2 separate regions of the Homo sapiens genome follow, and region 2 is linked to region 1. The links come from fine-mapping of genetic effects on gene expression. A gene starts in region 1. The other region holds a variant in brackets. All regions are shown on one strand. Distances are between the middles of the regions.

Region 1 (10,551 bases):
ACACTTCAGTTCCGTGCACACCTGAGGGTGTGGCACTGCCAGCAGGGCAAGTCCCCCCACAGGTGCAGAGGTGGAGCCGTGGGGACGGAATGTGTCATAGCTCAAAGCGCCTCAGGAACAGGGAGGGGTTCCCAGGAGGAAGCATACCAAGAACACCGTTTTTTAAAGAACGAAGGGGAAAAATAGAAACGTAACATAATAGTTGAACAGACGAGCACAGTAGGTAAGGCCAGGAGTTTGAGATCAGCCTGGTGAGAAACATAGTGAGACTCCATCTCTACAAAAAATTTAAAAATAAAAAGAGGATATAATTTTTAAATATAGGGCAACATTTATAATAGAAACCAAACTTAAGGCCAGGAGCGGTGGCTCATGCCTGTAATCCCAACACTTTGGAAGGCCGAAGCGGGCATATCACTCGAGCCCAGGAGTTCAAGACCAGCCTGGCCAACATAGTGAGACCCCCATCTCTACAAAAACTACAAAAATTAGCCGGGCGTGGTGGCACAAGCCTGTAGTCCCAGCTACTCGGGAGGCTGAGGTGGGAGGATTGTTTGCGCCCAGGGAGGTCAAGGCTGCAGTGAGCCGTGATCACGCCATTGCACTCCAGCCTGGGCAACAGAGTGAGACCCTGTCTCAAAAAAACAAACTTAACAAAGTATTGATGAATTAACCAATACAATATAAGACCTCTACAGGGAAAACTTTAAGATGCTAAAGAGGCCATGGATGACCTGAAATATTTAGAGAGAGTCCGTCCATGCTCTTGAATGGATGGCTTGACAGCATAAGGCTGTTATTTATCCCAATCAAAATTCCTGTAGTCTCAGCTACTTGGGAGGCTCAGGCAGGAGAATCGCTTGAGCCCGGGAGGCAGAGGTTGCACTGAGCCGAGATCACACCACTGCACTCCAGCCTGGGTGGCAGAGCAAGACTCCATCTCAAAAAAAAAAAAAAAAAAAATCCAGGGTTTTTTTGGTGGTGGTGGTGGTAGTTGTTACCTGGCAAACCTATTCTACAATTTATCTGCAACAATGAGATCCACAAAGAACCTTGGAGCAGGAGTGAAGGGGATGGATATTAAGCCATCCTGCAGAGCCACTGTGTGGATAGTGTAGGGTCGGCAAAGCGGCCTGTGGACTTGAAGACAAGGCTCAGAGAGACCCACAACACCCAGGCACACGACGGATTCCAGCAGTGCTAGAACAAAAGGGCAAGGCGGAGGATGCTGGAAGCTGGGTTCACTCTAAGGAGAGAAACACAGCAGGAGCCCTCGCTGGTGCACGTGCCCCATAGGTACACAGTCCATTACCATTGTGACTGAGGAGCAGACGCGATTCTCAAACGAAACAGAAAAAACACAGTTCTAAGGTAAGGCGTTTTGCATTAGGTCGATTAAAATGAAGGTTTCTGTTCAGCACAGGACACTGCAGGCAAGTCCACAGTGAGCAGACTTGCAAAGCCTCCAGCCAAGGCAGGGGGATGGGTGAAAGACAGGAGACTCCCCCAACAAGAAAGCAGGCAAAAGGTAGAAATGGGAGGAAGGGCAAGGAAAAGGAAAATCGCAGGGAGGGACGCTCCCAACCACAGAATTACAAAGTAAGGCACTGATGTGCACGGCCTGTTACTCGGGCCTCATCTAGGCAGATGGATGAAGCTGGGAGCCAGGGGTGTGGAGGGCAACATAGCCGACGCGGGCAGGGGATGGGGGTGCTTGGGCGGCTCTGGGTGAATTCGGCCTCTGCAGGCTGGGACCCTGGGGCCACTGTCCCCTGCCCCTGCGCTGTTCCCACCGGCCAATGGATGATCAATGAATGAATTATTGAATAGATGAATGAATGGAGTATTGCCTCCTTTCAGAGCCCAAGTGCTTCCAAAGGAGATCATGAAAGTAAGGAGGCCGGCAGGGGAGGGGAGTAGGGGGAAATCCATGCCCTGGAACCCCCAGCCCAGCCTGACTCCTCTGCCCACAGGTCCCCCATCAGCTCCCAGTGCCCCCCTCACTCGGGCTGCCTGGTTGCCAAGGTTATGCGTGGGTTCTGGGGGCCGGGCCACAAGGGGCAACCGCCTCCCTCTCCCTGCCCTCCTCCTGTTTCCCGGGTGGGAGCGTCGCCATCTTGCTGTGGGTGCCCTCCCCAGTGTGTGGCAGCTTTTGGGTTAAGGCAGCTTTGGAAAACCTGAAGGAAGGAACCAAGCGGCCCTGGGGTGGAAATGAGGCCCAGGGTCCCTGACCCCGCATGGGGCAGGAATGGGCCAGGCCAAGCCCATTGAGCCATCCTCCCCACCCGCACACGCGGGGGCCCCAGGCCTGGACCCCACATCTGGAGCCGACACCCCGACCCAGCTCACCAGTGACCCTCACTCAGGAGTGACTGAGCTGGCAGGTGTGCAGGTGACAGGATGAGGACGCAGCCCAGGAGTGGCTGTGAAGGGGCTGGAAGGAAGCTTTTGCCCAGAGGCTTGGCCTGCAGGCCCCACAGTCACCCTGGAAGCTGGTGGGCTGCCGATGCAATGGGACAGTGGCCACCGAGGATACTCAACCAAGCGGGCAGGCTGTGTGCCAGTGAAGCTGTATTTACTGTCGCTGAGGTGTGAATGTCATATATTTTTCAAGTGCCACAAAAGATTGTTCTTTTTTTCCCCAACGATTACAAAGTGTAAAAACCGTTCCTTGCTCCACCCGTAGGGGCTGCATTTGGCCTGTAGCTTGCGGAACTCCACCTTAAACAAGGAAATTAGCTTCTTTCTCTGGGGCCTTATCAGAGCCTTTAATACGTGATGAAGCTCCAGGAAAGTGCAGGCTGCAGCATTTCCCAAACTTACCTACTCATGGAACCCGCTTTCCTCCCAGTTCCCATCATGTTCTTGGAGTGTTGTGTGAAGCAGTTTGAGAAAAAGGTCCCCTAGGGCAGCAGTCCCCAACCTTTTTGGCACCAGGGACCAGTTTTGTGGAAGACAGTTCTTCCATGGACTGATGGGAGTGGGGAAGGTTTCAGGATTAAGCTGTCCCATCTCAGATGTCAGCCACTTAAGGAGTGCACACCCACCCAGGCCCCTCGCTGGCGCAGTGACAATAGGGGTCCCTAGGAGAATCTGATCTGATCTGAAGGGAGGCAGAGCCAGGCAGGAGTGGGCTCGCCTCTTCCTGGGCGGCCACTTCCTAACAGGCCAGGGACCCGGATGGTGGGTAGAGGGGGGGGTGTTGGGGACACTTTCCCTAGTGTTCTAAAGATGGAGCTTTAGGCACCAGGACAAGGCAAGGCTTTGGGGGAAGGGCATGGAGCAGGCGCTTCCTGGGAAGACCACCCACTGCTGGGCATCACAAGGGCTGTGGGGACAGGGGTGCCTCCCATCCCTCCCAGGACACAGCCTGGCTGGGACCATGGGACCAAGCTCCCCTAGGTTCCCCCCCACTCCCTGCCTCCTAGAATATTCTCCAGAGGCCAAAGTCCCAGTCCTGCAGTGCCTCCATGCCGGTGGGGTCCGCCCTCAAGGCACAGCAGTCCCTGAAGGCGCTTCAGAGACTCTGTGAACCCCCAGCCCAGTGGCAGTAGCAGCCCGGCCTTACCATGTCTGAGACGGCGTGACCTTCTTGCACCAGGACTGACACCATCTGCAGGAAGAAGCTGCCTCAGCCGAGCCGGGAGCAACCCCCACCGGGGCCACACGGTCTCAGGGGTCCAGGCCCATCACCGACCCCGCCGGCGCTCCCAGGCACCTTGTCCGCCGGGAACTCAACGGCGCCGCCGGCGCACGGGGTCCGGTTCTGGCTCCAGTTGGCTGCGACGTCGAAGTCCGTGTTGGGGACCCAGAGTTTGGAGACCGCCTGGGTCAGTGCTGGGGAGGAGGCGACTGAGTGCCCGGGATGCTCTCCGGGATGCTCCCTTCTCAGGGAAGGCCACCCACCCAGAGAAGTGCGGAAGGTCCGCGCGGATCACCCGGGACGCATAGGAACCCCATCCCCGGGGGCCCGGACCCAGACCCTGGTCCCTCCCGGCCAGACTGTGGGCGCCCTGCCCGGGCGCTCTCCAACGGACTTCTACTGATACCTGCAGAGCCCGCTCAAACGCGCCCTGCAGGACGCCTGCCTAGATAGCCTCCCGGCACTGCCCCCAGTTTGCCTGGCGCTGGAGCAGAGGACAGCGTTGTTAAGGACAGTGACAACTGGGGCATGGAGGAGGATGGGGCAGCACAGACCTCTTCTCGGCCTTGGAATCAGGAAGGCTTCCCGGAGGAGTCCTACCTGGGCCGGGAAGAGCTGCGACAGAGCGCAACCCGGTATGAGAAGTAAGAAGGGGCTGGGGGCGGCAGGACCAGGTCAGGCCGGCCCTGAATGTGGTGGGTGGGGTTGTCCTGAGGGAGCCGCGAGGGGTTTAGGGAAGGGGGCGCCAGGGACACGCGCCGGCCTGGTGTGAAGGCGGAGGAGGGCTCAGTGCTCCCTTGGGGACCGGGAAGCTGAGGCGGTCTGCCGAGCCCCGCAGGCGCACACTCGCTGCTCTCGGCAGGTTCTGGGGACCGCGCCCATTTCGCAGACGGAAAAACCGCGAGGGCAGGAGCCGCCGGAGGCCGGGGCTGGCCGAGGTTCCCGGAGCCCCTCCTCTCCTCTCCCGCACCGCCCGATGCACTGGCCGCGCACTTCCGGGCTGCGCACTCGCCAGACGAGGGAGGCAGGGCCGAGTTTCACGCCCCCAACCCTCCAAAGCCCTCCCTGCCCACTCCTCGGAAGATCTTCACCCTCCAGGCCTAGAGCGACCTCGGCCCTGGGTCCTGACAGACCGCTACCGTCCGGGCCCGCACCGGTGTGGTCCCGGCTCACCGCAGAGCTGCAGCCACAGCAGGACCCGGCCCAGGACGCCCATCTCGCCTCGGCTCCTTGCACCCCACCAGGAGACTTTGCCCCACTGGACCCACGTGACCAGGCAGGTCGGGTGGGGGCACCAGGGTCGGTTACACATTTACCTCCAGACCCGCCCAGGGCCGACTCTTCAGGCCCCTGGGAGGCACCTTCTCAGCCTCCCCTTACCCGCCCCTGCAGGGCCTGAACACCTTAGGTTCTCAGGAAGAAGGGCAAAGAAGAAGGGCTTGGCGAGACTGACCTACCCTGTAAAATGGGTGTCTTGCCGGGAGGGGGAATAAACGACCTTTGAATTCACCCCTTTCTCTGTCCTGTGTGCTGCTAGGGCTGAGCTAGTCTGCTCACCATTGGAACTGGGTGTCCACTTCTCCACGCAGTGCCCCTGTCCCATGGGCTGTGGGTGGTGGTTGGATGATAGAAGGAAGATCCTGGATGGAACATGGTATGTGGATGGTATAGGAGGGTGGATTGTGGATGATGGTGGAGAGTAGTGGATGGTGAGTAGGGGACAGCTGATGGACAGCAACATTGATGGTGCATGGTGTACGGCATATGGACGCATGGCAGATGAATGGTAAATGGTTGACGGGGTGGATGGTGAGTGATAGAGGGTGGATGGGTGATGAATGGATGGATGAGGATGGTGAGTGAAAAATGAATGAATGGCCGGGCGTGGTGGCTCATGCCTGTAATCCCAGCACTTTGGGAGGGTGAGGCAGGCGGATCGCGAGGTCAGGAGATCAAGACCATCCTGGCTAACGCGGTGAAACCCCGTCTATACTAAAAATATACAAAAAAATTAACCGGGCATGGTAGAAGGCGCCTGTAGTCCCAGCTACTTGGGGGGCTGAGGCAGAACGGCGTGAACCCAGGAGGTGGAGCTTGCAGTGAGCCACGATCGTGCGCTGCACTCCAGCCTGAGCGACAGAGCGAGACTCCGTCTCAAAAAAAAAAAAAAAAAAAGGAAAAGGAATGGATGGTAATCAGGGAGTGGTGGATGGATAATGGCATAAATGGATACATGGCCGACAGGTAGATCATAAAGAGTGGGTGTTGGCGGGGCACGGTGGCTCACGCCTGTAACCGCAGCACTTTGGGAGGCCAAGGCGGGCAGATCACCTGAGGTCGGGAGTTCGAGACCAGCCTGACCAACATGGAGAAACCCCATCTCTACTAAAAATACAAAATTAGATAGGCATGGTGGCACATGCCTGTAATCCCAGCTACTTGGGAGGCTAAGGCAGGAGAATCGTTTGAACCTGGAAGGCGGAGGTTGTGGTGATCGGAGATCACGCCACTGTGCTCCAGCCTGGGCAACAAGAGTGAAACCCCATCTCAAAAAAAAAAAAGTGGGTGTTAAATGGTGGATGTTTGGTGAGTGATGAATGCTGAATGGATGGATGGTGGATGGTGAATAGATAGATGGTAAATGGATAGATGGTGGATGATGGTTGCATAAATGGTGAATTGTGGATGGAGATGGACGGTGGATAGTGAATAGATGGTGGATAGTGAATAGACAGTGGATAGTGGATAATGGGTGGATAGTAGATGGTGGATAGGATGATAAATGGATGGGTAATGGATGGTAGATAAGTAGATAATGGATAAATGGTGGATGATGGATGGTAGGTGGATGATGGTTGGTGGGTGGTGGATAATGGACAAGTGAATGGTGATGAGTAGATGGTGAATATTAAGTGGATGGATGGGCGGCAGATGGTAGATAGTGGATGATAGATGGTGGATGGTGGATGGTAAGATGAATAGTGGTTGGTGGATGGTGGGTGGTGGATGGTGGGTGGATGGAAGGATGGGTGGTGAATGAGTGAATGGTGGATGGTGAATAGGTGGATGGTGGATGGTGGATGGTGAATGGCCGATGGTGGATGTGAATGGTGATGGGTGGTGGATGAATGGATGGATGAATGGCGAATGGTGGATGGCAGATTGTGGATAAGTGGATGGTGGATGGATGGATGGTGGATGGGTGAATGGGTGGATGGATGAATGGTGGATGGTAGACAGTGGATGAGGGATGATAGATGAATGGTGGGTGGTGGATGAGTGGATGGCGAATGGGTGAATGGACATATAGATGGGTGGATGGATGGATGGTGGATGGTGGGTGAGTGAATGATGGGTGGATGGTGGATGAAGGGATGGTGGATGGTAGATGGGTGGATGTGTGAATGGGTGGATGGATGAATGGACGCTGGATGAGTGAATTGTGGATGATGGATGAGTGGATGGTGGATATGTGAATGGGTAGAGGGATGGATGGGTAGATGGATGGTGGAGAATGGATGGTGGATGAGTGAATGGTGGATGAATGGATGGTAGGTTGTGGATGGGTGGATGGTGAATGTGTGGATGGATAGATGGTGGATGGATGGATAGTGGGAGTGGATGGTGGATGGATGAATGGTGGATAGATGGATGGTGGATGTATGCATGAATGGACGGTGGATAAATGAATGGTGAATGAATGAGTGGTAGATGGATGGAAGGTGATGGTGGATGGTGAATTGGGATAGATGGGTGGTGCGTTATGAATGGTGGATGATGGATGGTGGATGGATGGAAGGTGATGGTGGATGGTGAATGGGGATAGATGGATGTTGGATGATGGATGGTGGATGGATGGAAGGTGATGGTGGATGGTGAATGGGGATGGATGGTGGATGATGGATGGTAGATGGATGGAAGGTGATGGTGGATGGTGAATGGGGATAGATGGATGGTGGATGATGGATGGGAGATGGATGGAAGGTGATGGTGGATGGTGAATGGGGATAGATGGATGTTGGATGATGGATGGTGGATGGATGGAAGGTGATGGTGGATGGTGAATGGGGATAGATGGATGTTGGATGATGGATGGTGGATGGATGGAAGGTGATGGTGGATGGTGAATGGGGATAGATGGATGGTGGATGATGGATGGTGGATGGATGGAAGGTGATGGTGGATGGTGAATGGGGATAGATGGGTGGTGGATGATGGATGGTAGATGGATGGAAGGTGATGGTGGATGGTGAATGGGGATGATGGGTGGTGTGTTATGAATGGTGGATGGTGGATGGTAGGTAGATGGAAGGTGATGGTGGATGGTGAATGGGGATAGATGGGTGGTGCGTTATGAATGGTGGATGATGGGTGGTGGGTTGATATAGTATTTTGTAGAAGGACAGTTGATCAACAGACAGATGACGGATGGTAGATGAAAGCAGATAGTTGGCTGGGCGCGGTGGCTCACGCCTGTAACCCCAGCATTTTGGGAGGCTGAGGATGGAGTATCACTTGAGGTCAGGAGTTCAAGACCAGCATGGACAACATGGTGAAACCTTGTCTCTACTAAAAATACAAAAATGAGCCAAATGTGATGGTGCACATTTGTAATCCCAACTACTTGGGAGGCTGGGGCCGAATTGCTTCAACCTGGGAGGCAGAGGTTGCAGTGAGCCGAGATTGTGCCACTCCACTCCAGCCTGGGCGACAGAGTGAGACTCTATTAAAAAAAAAAAAAAAAAAAAAAAAAAAAAGAGTAGATAGTTGATTGTGGATGGTGAATGGGTAAGTGTATGGATGGCAGCTCACAGATGGTGAATGTTATTGGTGGATGGATGGATAGAAGAGTGATTATGGAAGGATGGTTGATGGATGGTAGATGGTAGTTGAATAAAGGAGAACGAGGGAAAGGGCGGACGGTGGCAAAATGAATCATGGTTGCATAGTGGATGGTTGATGGGTGAAAGAGAAATCGTAGCTGTTGAACAGATGTGTATGTATGGATAGTTGTTGCAATGCACGGTGGGTGAGAAAAAGTTGTGGATTTTGGATGTAGATGGATGGTGGACAAGACCAAATGGTGGAGGGATGGATTGATGGTGGATGAATAATGGTGAATGAATTTTAGATGATGTGTGAATGGATAGTAGTAAGTAGAGAGACAGTAGGTAGATGGATAAGAGTACAGGAGTTACTGGATATAAATCAATGGGTGGGTGGACAGAGCATGGTGGATAAATTGTGAATGAATGTGCGCTAGGTGATGGATGGATGATTGATGGGGGTTGGGGGAATGGGTCTGCAGTGCATGCTTGGATCTGCATCATGCACGTTGGAATGGCTGGGTGGTGAGTGAATGGAGGATGGATTTGTGGGTGTTGGGAAGCAGAGAGGTAGAAAGATGAACAGCAAATGGATTGTGCATGATGTTTGGATGATTTGATGATGGGGAGATGAGTTTCTGGGAGGGTGGTGAATTGGTCATTAGGGGATTACTGGTGGAGAGATGGATGGTGTGCCTTGTGGATTGGGGAGACACTGGTTGTAGCTGATGGAAGGGGGAGAATGGTGGATGGTTACACTGGGTTCCAATGGCAGGATGGTGGATGAGTGACTAGGGAAGGGTGCAGGAAGGATGGTGGAGGTGGGTATGTAGGCAGAGGACTGAAGGTGAAAGGGAAACTACTCAGTCTTGGAGACTTCCAGGGCCTTCCACCCTCCAGGCCATCCTGCTGTTTCCTGCACCCCCACCCCTCATCTGCAGACTCTGCCATGAGCACCCCTTTGCTTGGCCTGGTATTTGCTTCTTTCATGAGTGATATGCTGCATCCGGGGAGGAAGGAGCCGCCACTGGGGGGAGCTCTGCCTCTTTTTGTGTCCCGGGTGGGCGCCTTGCCTCGACATCTCTGATGCCACCAGCATTGCCCCTTACCTTGGAGGGATCGCCTTGAGCAGAGGTCCCTGCGCTCAGTGGCTCTGTGGTGCTGGCCCAGCCTAGGACGGGGAGGGTGGGTCCTCACGGTCCTGGAGTTTGGCTGCCCCTTGCTGGACTCACATGTCCTCAACCAGGAACAAACAGGATACTTGGGGGTCACAACTGTTTTGCCCCTTGTCTTGCTTCTCAGTGGGAAGGAGGCAGTTTGACTGACAGGGCTGCGTTGGGCTTCACCCCTGAGTGTCTGGCTCTGCCCCCCATCCCCACCGCCACCATAAATGCAGAGGGCCAGGTGAGGCTCAGCAAACTTCACCCCTGGTGCTCAGGGCCACAGCCAGGACTGAAAGGGCCCAGAGGCTGGGGCTCCCTCTCCTGATGGTGGGGCCTCAGGGGAGTCCAGAGTGCTGGACGGCCAGGACTTGGGGCAGCAATGGAGCCTCTTTGACTACTGCTGCTCCACCTGGGCAGGCCATTCCTAGATTGTGCTGTGTGGAGAGGGTAGTGAGGCCACTTGGCTTCCTGGTCAGGGGAGGCTTCCTGAAAAAGGTGGCATTAAAATGAGACAGGAAGGATGAGATCACAGCTGCAGCCACAGTGAGGAGGTTGAATTGAAGGTGGCAGACCATAGGGGGCTGGGGCTGGCTGGGTGGGGTATTGGGATCCATCTCTCTTGCCCTGAGTGGCCTCTGGAGGTGGGTCCAGCAGTCAGAGGGTGGCCCAGCGAGCTCACATGAGGCAGCAGATAGGCACCAGGGCGCTGGGCAGACAAGCGGTACCAGAACCACTCACATGCAAAGATGTGAGCTGAGGAATGGCTGCGACCGCACTGCAGGTGCCATGTGTGCACAGAAAGCCCTTGAGCATATGCACAGGTGCCCCCGGCCCTCAGGCACACATGAGGGCACAAACTTGCAAATGGCTCAGAACCTCAGCAGGGACGTGGAGAAATGCAAAGCCCCGGAGTTTCCTC
Region 2 (10,836 bases), 64 kb after region 1:
AAAGAACTGCAGTTGTTTGTTTCGACCTGTCTACTGAGTCCCTGGAAGACTGGCTCAAAGGGCTTGACTTTACCTCCCAGTGCTGAGGCATCTACTAGGGAAAGATGGGAAAAGGTTATTGGAAACATTTACAGACAAACATATTTGCTGCTGCCTGAAGCACTGAATAACAGTTGAGGCAAACAATAGATTTAACCAAAAGCTTGGGAAGAAAAGCTGAGGAGTAAGATGTTTTGGAAAATAAAGGTTTGAAAAGCTCTGACACATTCTTGGAAATCCAGAAGGCTCCACAAATGCCCAGGGCTGTGTACATGTTCAGGAAAGACCTGAAAAGGCCCTAGGCTTTCACCTCTGGCTGACCTTCAGGATCTGTGCAAGCAGGCAGCGAATGCTCAGGGATCACCGTCAAATGCCTGGCTGAGTGTTGAAGGTGTGCTCCAACATACACACAGACCTCATCTCAAAAGACTGGGAGACATTTTTTGTTCTAGGCGCTTAAATCTCTGTCTAATCACAAGCTGACCACTATATTAATGGAACAGAGAACTCAGAGGCCACACATGATAAAGAATATATACTATATAAAATTAGCTCAGAAAAGTAACTATACAAACAATGACTGTAACAAGCAGTCAATAAACCCTGGGGGAGAAGGAAGAATCTCATTTCCAGAGTTGCCACGGTAAAAATTCAAAAGTTCCAGTTTTCAACAAAATATCACAAGGCATGCAAAGAAACAAGAAAGTATGGTTCACATGCAGAAAAAAGGCAACTAACAGAAATTGTTTAAGAGGAAGCCCAGGCATTAGACGTATGGATGAAGACTTTAAATATGCTATTTTAAATATGTTCAAAGAACTAAAGAAAACCATGTTCAAAAATCTACAAGATCCATCAGAACAATGTCTCACTGAATAGAAAATATTGATAAAGAAAAAAATAGTTTAAAAAAAGAACCAAACAAAAATTCTGGAGTTGAAAAGCACAAAAACTGAAATGAAAAATTCACTGCAGGGGCTCAACAGCAGAAATAAACAGCAGTAAGAATCAGAGAACTTAAAGATAGGATAATTGAGATTATAAAGTGTAAGGAACAGAAGAAAAAATAATGAAGAAAATAAACAGCCTCAGAGACTTGTGGGACACCATCAATTGTACCAACATACATATTATAGGGTCTTAGAAAGACAGAGAGAAAAAAAGACAAAAAAAAGTTTGAAGAAATAATGGTAGAAAAGTCCTGTATTTAATGAGAAACATTAATCTGCATAACCAGGAAGCTCGACAAACTCCAAGTAGGATAAATTCAAAGAGCCACACCCAGACACACTGTAGCCAAACTGTAGAAAGCAGCAAGAGAGAAGTGACTCTTCAAGTACAAGGATTTCTCAGTAAGATTAACAACTGATTTCTCATCTAAAGCCATGGAGGCCGAAAGGTGACAAATTAAAGGGCTGAAAGAAAAAAATCTGTCAACCAATAATTTTTTTTTTTTTTTTTTTTGGAGAAGGGATCTTACTCTGTCACCCAGGCTGGAGTGCAGTGTGGTGCAATCATAGCTCACGGCAGTCTCCAACTCCTGGGATCAAGCAATCCTCCTGCCTCAGTCTCTCTGGGAGCTGGGACTACAGGCCAGTGCCATCATGTCTGGCTATTTTTCAACCAAGAATTCTATATCCAGTAAAACTATCTTTCAAAAATGAATGAGATCCCCAAAAAATATATTAGAAAGCTCTTAGAAGAAAACACAGGAGGTAAATCTTTAATGACCCTGAATTTGGCAATGGATTCTTAGATACAACAACAAAAGTATAAGCAACAAAATAAAAAACTAGATAAACTGAACTTCATTCATCAAAATGAAAAACTTTTGAGCACCAAATGAGATTATCAATAAAGTGAAAAGACAATTAACAGAATGGGAGGAAATACTTGCAAATCACATATCTAATAAGGGTTTAGCATCCAGGATATATATAAAGCACTCTTATAACTCAACCACAAAAAGACAACCCAATTTTAAAATGAGCAAAGGATCTGTATAAACGTTTCTCCAAGGAAGATACTGAAATATTCAACAAGCGCATAAAAAGATGTCCAATATCAATATCATTAAGAAAATACAAATCGGCTGCTCTGCCTATTGAGTAGCCACTTTTTTATTTACTTCTATAATAAACTTGCTTTCACTTTATAGACTCACCCTGAATTCTTTCTTGCATGAGATTCAATAACCCTCTCTTGGGGTCTGGATTGGGACCCCTTTCCGGTAACATCTTCCTGGCAAGCCCCAAAGGGATGATACTGAGGAGACTCCCAACCCAAAGGAAATAGACTGCAGCACTGATTGGCCGACCTTGGGTAAGTGGGATGCAGTTACCTGGGTAAAGGATGGGATTGGGTTAGAGGCCCAACTTAGGAGAGTTAGAGTCTCTCCTAAGAGAGGGATAAAGGTGCCTGTTAATAAAAGGCAAGCACGCTTGACTGAACTTGGGTTTGATGCCCAACTTAGGAAGGTTAGAGTCCTTCCTAAAATTTAGGGGGTTGGAGGCCCCTCTCAGTAGAGTCCCTCTCGACTAAGAACCAGTTTGGCACTATGGGATGTTAACTGCTATTCTCTTTGGATTAATCTGCCTTGCACTCTTTGCTGATGGCTGTGGGTGACAGAACTAGACATGTCCAAGATTATGGGACATGGGGAGCTTTTTCCTCCCCAAAAGGGGAAACTAGAGCTGATGGGAATGCTGGGAAAGATCCCTACGCTCCCAAAAAGCAGCCACCTGAACTTCTGATTCAGTGTCAGCTGCAATGGGCGGGTCTTTCTCTGGCCTCCCTGAGCTTCTTGCATTCCCCAGCCTGCTGCAGGCAATGCTTTTCTCCCTTTCTTTCCTTTCCCTTTCCTATCTTTTCTGTTATTCAGGGCCACCATCTTGCCCAAAGACCACATGTTGAGAAATGTCCCTGAGAGCTTGACCTTGTAATCATATGGCAGTACTTTCTCTTTGTCTCTGCCTTCCAGGCAACAGGGATTTTGGGGTAGTAGTTAGCTCTACAAATTATCTTGAGCAGTTAAAAGCCTTTGCAAGCTCAAAATTTACTGCTCTGGGCTCCTTCTGGGAAAAGCAGTGGAAACTGCCCAATGCTGTAGCTTAGCAGTTAAGGCTTTGTCTTTTCACAATGGTGGCCTGAGTTCAGGTTCAATTTTTAGCCTAGAAAATGAGCACTTTCTGGTTGGCATTTGGGTGACCTGTGCCATTTGTTGATTCTCCTCCCTTTCATAAACTGTCTTAAATTTTCCTTTCTCTCAGCACCTGGGAGGTTACATTTGGAAAAGTTAAAAAGCCAGGAATATTGGCAGTTTGGCGTGGCTAAAGTTGGGTAATAAGATATTTAAAACGACTTTTTAAAGAGTGCTATGGTTAAAAGTCAGCTTAATTAAAAGTCGATATTCAAGCTCTAACAGCCTGGGACTTCTTAGGAAAAACAGAGGAGGCACCACATACCCTGTTTTGGGAAAAACCTCTATTTTCCTCATGGAACCCCGAGAATTATTAAAAGTGGATAGATCCCTCTCAAAATCTATGGCTCTGTTCTGTTTTGCACTGCATTATCTGTTTTTTACTTTGGGGGTATCAGAAATTACTTCACATTATGAGAGAACTTTGGTGTGTAATATAACTAGGTAGGAAATACATTTAATACTTTTGGGGATGGCTAAATGGCACTGTGGGGGATACTTGGATCTTTGTGTGTCTGGATTAAGAGCATGCTCTTGGCCACCTGGAAGGTATGGAGATGTCCTCACCCTTCCCCACTGAGAGATAAGACTCCCATGGGGGATGGGCTGATCTCAGAAAGGGCTGATTGGCTCTGGGTTGCCTGGCAATGAAATATGTGGTAAAATCATTGCACTGTTGTGTTCTGTAGCGTTTCTCTTTGGGGGATCCAGGATCAATATAAAAATGGGACCCTCAAGTTTTGGGGCTCTGTCTTGCCTTCCAATTGTGCCTGCTTATTAGGCCATAGAAACTGCATGCTTTCCTTGCCCTGTTCCTCCAGGGCTCCACCATAAAGCCACTAATCCAATTAAGAAACTGGCAAAGGAAAAACCTTACAACTACTACATTTTCTTCTGTCTGTGTATTTATATGTGTTGTGTGTGTGATATAAAAGGCTTTGATTAATTGGCTTAAAAATAAGTGTTTAAATCAAATATTTTGTCAGAAAAATAAAAAGCGTAATGCCTTTTAATTCGTGTGACTTAAGCTGTGGGAAGTAAAGAAAATTTTAAAGATTATTGGTAAAATAAAGACATTCGGTCTAAATCAGGCAGGTCAAATTTTAGGTTTGCTAAACGCTTTAACTTTATAAACTGCCTCTTTGACTTTTGAAAATTGTTAAACTTACCTACAGCCATTAGATTCTAGGTAAGGCCTAGGGACATGTGGAGTTAGCCATGCCTCCTAGCTATGCTAGTAAGTGTC[A/C]GACCTTATCTGCACTTCTGCCTGGTGTCCTAGGCTCCATACCTAGTACATAATTAAAATTGCTTACCAAGTTTTTCACTAAAAATAAACACTGCTAAGAGTTAACAGTGTAACATCTACTTGAGACTACTGGAAAAACAGTTTTACATGCAAGGTGTGTAGGGAAAGTGAAATGTGTTTTTGGTAAAAGAGAAGGAGACATGTGAATGTGGATTTTTTTTTTTTTTGGCCTAAATTAAAGGGTTAAGGGATTGTTTTAAGTTAGGATAAAGCTGAAGGTTTGCAAAAGTTGTGGAAATTTTGTGAAAAATTAATCTTTTAAAAGAAATTCTGTGTGTGAACATACTGGCTGAAGTTAAAGGGGTATGATACAGTTCCGTAAATTGAACACTGGAATAAAAGCGTAACAAGGTTTTCTTAGAGCACTGATCTGCTCTTTAACAAAAATTTGTAAAGGGTTATAAAAGGTTTATAAGAATCTTACCTTCTGGTCTGACATTAAAATTGGGTAGATTTGTCTATAATGTTTTATTAAGAATTGGGTTTAACATTAATAGTACACTAATGCAATGGTGAAATTTGGCTTATTTGGTATAAAAATCATACAGGAAGCACTGTCAAATATGAAATGGTGTTTGGCTTTCTTTGACCTGTATTTATATAAATATGTTATTGGTATGTGTTCCAAAGTAATGGGAAACTCCTAGAATTGTGATATGACTTAGCATATGTTACTAATAATTACAATTATTATGTAAAATCGTATGCCACAAAAGTAATCAAAATTCCTAGTCAATTGTGCCTTTAATAGTGGCTGCCTTAAGACTTTCTGTCAACCACAGACAACTGCTGTGTTGATCCTCTTCAAAAGGTGGTTTATAGTCAGCTATTATAGGACTTCAACAGGTGCTCTTGGATGCAGGTTTCTAATAACTTTGGAGATTGTGACATTAGAATAGAGGTTCTTAGGCCGGGTGCAGTGGCTAACGCCTGTAATCCCAGCACTTTGGGAGGCCGAGGTGGGTGGATCACCTGAGGTTGGGAGTTCGAGACCAGCATGACCAATGTGGTGAAACCCCGTCTCTACTAAGAAATACAAAAATTAGCTGGGCGTGGTGGTGCGTACCTGTAAGCCCAGCTACTCAGGAGGCTGAGGCAGGAGAATCGCTTAAACCTAGGAGGCAGAGGTTGCAGTGAGCCAAGATCACGCCATTGCATGCCAGCCTGGGCGACAGAGTGAGACTGTCTCAAGAAAAAAAAAAAAAAGAAGAACAGAGGTTCTTTCAGGACTCTCATGGAGAGCTGAAATGATTATGAATATCAAGTAGAACAGGAGTTAACTGCATGGACTGAACAAAAGACTCAAGTAATCTTTTCTGACTTTTTGCTTAAAACGTTGCTGATCATTTTTGTTTTTCAGAGCCAAGAAAACTTTTGAGCTACTTACAGCTTTTGACAATTGAGTAAAGTATACTCCTGTGAACAAAATTTGGAGCATATTTGTTTTTCTCTACCTGCTTTCTCTGGAATTTGGAAACTATTTGTGAGTATTAACTTATGGCAATATAGTTATTTGCACAAGTGCAATAAGAATCTGTTTTCTTTTGCAACAGGACACAATTAGAGAAACTAGTTGTTTTACCAGGACTTTGATGGGAATGGTGTGCTTTCCTTTAAGGACTCAAACTTGACTTATGGAGCCAATAAAAGTTCCTTGGGAAAACTGGCCTCATACCTTGTCTACACAGTTCCTGTGCAGGGTTCCTGACCTGTGGTTAGTAAAGAATGTCACTTTCCGACAGGCCCAGGAACCCCACGCCATCTTGGGACCTCAAGAGGAGAGGAATTTCCCAACTCACAGGTTATTTGAGGGTACAAACCCATGGCTGGGCTTGGCTTTAACAAAAAGTCTTATCTAAGCTTCCTTTTATGGAATGAAGTTTCATCAAAGCCAATTTTAAAAACCTATGTGAAAAATAACTGTTCTTGCTGCACTTTATACAAATAATCAGGCCAAGTATAATAAAGCAAATCAGTTGTACCATGATTTGTCTTCAGTAAAAATGGGAGACCGGAGAGAGAAAATAAATTATGTTTCAGGAACTTGGTACACCTGTTACTAGATTCTAGTCTCATCAGTTGTTTTTAAGTTTTTTTTCTGCAACTTAGGCTAACCCTGCTTACTCCTGTGAACCAATCAGTGATCTCTGGCTGCTGCTCACAAGAAACAAGAGAGATGGGTAATGTAAAAATCTGGATCAATATTCTAATTCTGGGCACATACTGGAGTCGGCTAGCAACCCGATGTATCAGTTTGGTTTCAACAACTGCCCAGTTCATGGAAAGCCTTCTTGTTTAGTTTACTCAGGATAATTTTAGTTATTCTACTTTACTGTTGTGGAATATATTGCTGTTGTACTCTTTGTGTAGGAATGCAGGATAAGTTTACTGAATGTTTTCTTAAACTGAACACTTATTAATCTTCCAGATACCACCTTTTGTTGGAACTCAGAGCTATGAATGGCCCTCACCATATTGATGCTTTCTGACTGAGCTCTTCTCTACCCTGAATACAAGAGACCCTCATAGTTAGGCAGGAATATCATCGCCCCATTCAGCCTGAAGAAGTTACAGAAGATGGATCTTTGTCCCTCTACGACTGTTAGGATTAAGGGTTCTGCTGTAAAAGGGAGGGGGGAAACATGTCAGGGGTGTCTGAACCAGAGAAACTCCATCTTGAATAGGGGGTGAGTAAAATAAGGCTGAGACCCACTGGGCTACATTCCCAGGAGGTTAGGCATTCTAAGTCACAGGATGAGACAGGAGGTCGGCACAAGATACAGGTAATAAAGACCTTAATGATGAAACAGGCTGCAGTAAAGAAGCTGACCAAAACCAAGATGGCGATGAAAGTGACCTCTGGTTGTCCTTACTATTCATTATACTCTAATTATAATGCATCAGCATGCTAAAAGACACTTCCACCAGCACCATGACAGTTTCCAGATACCATGGCAACGTCAGGAAGTTGCCCTGTATGGTCTACAAAGGGGAGAAACCCTCAGTTCCAGATACTGCCCACCCCTTTCCCATAAAACTCATGAATAATCCACCCCTTGTTTAGCATACAATCAAGAAGTAACAATAAGTATAAGCAGCTGAGTGGCAATGGGCTCTGCCTATGGAATAGCCATTCTTTATTCCTTTGCTTTCTTAATAAACTTGCTTTCACTTAAAAAAGAAAATACAAATCAAAACCACAGTGAGTTCCCACTTCACACCCACTGGGATGGCTGTAATTTTTTTTTTTTTTTTTTTTTTTTGTGAGACAGGGTTTTACTCTGTTGCCCAGGCTGGATGGAGTGCAGTGGTGTGAACGTGACTTGCTGCAGCCTTGAACTCCTGGGCTCAGGCAATCCTCCCAACTCAGCCTCCCGAATACCTGGGAATACAGGCATACACAACCATGCCCAGCTAGTTATTTTATTGTCTGTAGAGACGGGGTGTCATTATATTGCCCAGGTTGTTCTCAAACTCCTGGGCTCAAGTGATCCTCCCACCCTGGCCTCCCAAAATGTTGGAATTACAGGCATGAGCCAACGTACCTGGCCTTTTTTTTTTTTTTTAGATAAAGTCTCATTCTGTAGCCCAAGCTGGAGTGCGGTGGCATGATCTTGGCTCACTGCAACCTCCATCCCTCAGGCTCAAGTGATTCTCGTGCCTCAGGCTCCCTAGTAGCTGGGACTACAGGCTGGTGCCACCACGCCTGGCTAATTTTTTGTATTTTAGTAGAGATGGGGTTTCACCATGTTGCCCAGGGTGGTCTCAAACTCCTGAGCTCAGGTGATCTGCCTGCCTCGGCCTCCCAAAGTGCTGGGATTACAGGTGTGAGCCACTGCGCCTGGCCTATAATTTTTTTAAAAAAGGAAAATAACAAGTGTTAGGATGTGGAAAAACTGAAACCCTCATATACTGCTGTGGAAACGCAAAATGGTTCAGCCACTAAGGAAAAGAGGCTGGCAGTTCCTCAAAAAGTTAAAACATTTTACCATATGACCCAGCAATTCCACTCTTAGGTACATGCTCAAAATAACTGAAAAAAGGTACTCAAAGAAACACATGTATACACATGTTCACAGCAGTACTCTTCACAACAACCAAAAAGGTAGAAACCACCAAAATGTCCATCAATACATGAATAAACAAAATGTAATCTATCCAGACAGTGAATACCATTCAGCCTTAAAAAGGAATCAAGTTCTGATTCATGCTACAACATGGATGAACCCTGAAAACATGCTAAGTGAGTAAGTCAGAAGCAAAGGGCACACACTACGATTTCATCTACATGAAACATACAGAATAGGGAAATCCACAAGACAGAAAGCAGACTGGTAGTTACCAGTGGTTGAAAGGAGGCATAATGGGGACTCACTGCTTATGGGTATGGGGTTTCCTTTTGGGAACGAAAAAAATGTGTTGGAACCAGATAGAGATCATGGTGCAGAACACTGTGAATGTACAAAATGCCACTGAATCATTCACTTTTAAATGGCTAATGTTATGTGTATCTCACCACAATTTATTTTAAAACATTGTTAAAAAAAAAAAAAAAAAAACAGCCAGGTGCGGCAGCTGACACCTATAATCCCAGCACTTTGAAAGGCTGAGGTGGGCAGATCACTTGAAGCCAGTAGTTCAAGACATGCCTGGGCAACACAGTAAAAAACCCCATCTCTACAAAAAAATACAAAAAATAGCTGGGTGTGGTGGTGCACACCTGTAGTCCCAGCTATCTGGGGGGCTGAGGTGGGAATCACTTGAGCCCAGGAGGTGAGGCTGCAGTGAGCCATGTTTGCACTACTGCACTGCAGCCTGGGCAACACAAAAGTAAGACTCTGTCTCAAAACCAAAACCAAAACCTACTATAACCACTTAGTCACTTGGATGGCTAAAATTTTAAAAACAGAAAATCACAAGTGTTAGCAAGGATATGGAGAAATGGGAATCTTCACATATTGTTGACAGGAATGTAAAATGGTGCAGCCCTTGTGGAAACAATCTGGCAGTTCCTCCAAAAGTTAAACACAGAATTACCGTATGACCCAACAATTCCATCTCTATGTATATACCAAGAGAACCAGTCTGTTCACGCAAAAACTTGTTCACAAACGTTCACAGCAGCACTATTCACAATAGCGAAAAAAAAAGTAGAAACAGCTCAAATGGTCAACTGGTAAATGGATAAACAAAATGTGGTCTATTCATACAATGAACTCTTACTTAGGCATAAAAAAAAATGAGGTACTATATATGCTACAACATGGATGGACCCTGAAAACATTATGTAAGTTATAGAAGTCAGAAACAAAAGGCCACATATTGTATGATTCCTATTACATGAAATGTCCAGAATAGGCAAATTCATAGATACAGAAAGTAGATTAGTGGTTGCCAGAGGCTGGGGCAAGCGAAGAATGGAGAGTGCCTGCTTAGTGGTATGGGGTTTCTTTTTGGGGTGATGAAATATTCTGAAATTAGATAGTAGTGATGGTTGCATAACATTCTTTTTTTTTTTTTTTTAGACGGAGTCTTGCCTCTGTCGCCCAGGCTAGAGTACAGTGCCGCAATCTCGGCTCACTGCAACCTCCGCCTCCCGGGCCCAAGCAATTCTGCTGCCTCAGCCTCCCAATTGCCTGAGGTTACAGGAGTGTGCCACCATGCCCAGCTAATTTTTTTGTATTTTTAGTAGAGATGGGGGTTTCACCATGTTGGCGAGGCTGGTCTCGAACTCTTGACCTCAGGTGATCTGCCCGCCTCGGCCTCCTAAAGTGCTGGGATTACAGGCATGAGCCACCACGCCCGGCCGTAACATTCTGAATATACACAAAGCCACTGAGTTGTACACTTTAAGTGGTTTAAGTGGTGAATTTTGTTTTGTAAATTTTATCTCAATTAGAAAGTGTTTACAATTTTTTTCGTGGGGTAAAAAACGGTGGTGGGGGGAACATCCAGATTCCTGAATCCCGCACAGCCTGGTAGCCACTCCTTACCACCACCACGAACATAAAAAAATGGCTAGCAGGCAGGACGTGGTAGCTCACACCTGTAATCCCAGCACTTTGGGAGGTCAAGGCAAGAGGACTGCTTGAAGTACCAGGAGTTTGAGATCAGCCTTGGCAACACAGCAAAACTCAGTCAGCCTCTAAAAAAAAATAAAGGCCAGGTGCAATGGCTCACACCTGTAATCCCAGCACTTTAGGAGGCAAGGCAGGAGGATCGTCTGAGGTCAGGAGTTCAAGACCAGCCTGGCCAACATGGCAAAACCCTGTCTCTACTAAAAATACAAAAA

The links. PIP is the estimated chance that this variant, and not a neighbour inherited with it, causes the effect. A credible set is the group of variants that fine-mapping cannot tell apart.
Region 2: its variant is the best candidate, but not a certain one, in a credible set for the expression of AMN in whole blood (TOPMed, PIP 0.58).

Annotation. Positions count from the first base shown.
Region 1 is chr14:102,916,997-102,927,547 of GRCh38, reverse strand. It overlaps AMN (amnion associated transmembrane protein), which reads right to left and starts at 4,885. Exons shown (of 12, transcript NM_030943.4): 1 at 4,817-4,885; 2 at 3,719-3,837; 3 at 3,569-3,613. The coding sequence starts at 4,859. RefSeq lists silencers at 3,100-3,298, 4,462-4,661.
Region 2 is chr14:102,853,069-102,863,904 of GRCh38, reverse strand. The region is part of intron 2 of TRAF3 (TNF receptor associated factor 3); the gene reads right to left. Among named protein-coding and RNA genes, the nearest start is that of AMN, 64 kb to the left of the region's middle. The variant A/C (reference allele first, on the strand shown) is at 4,485.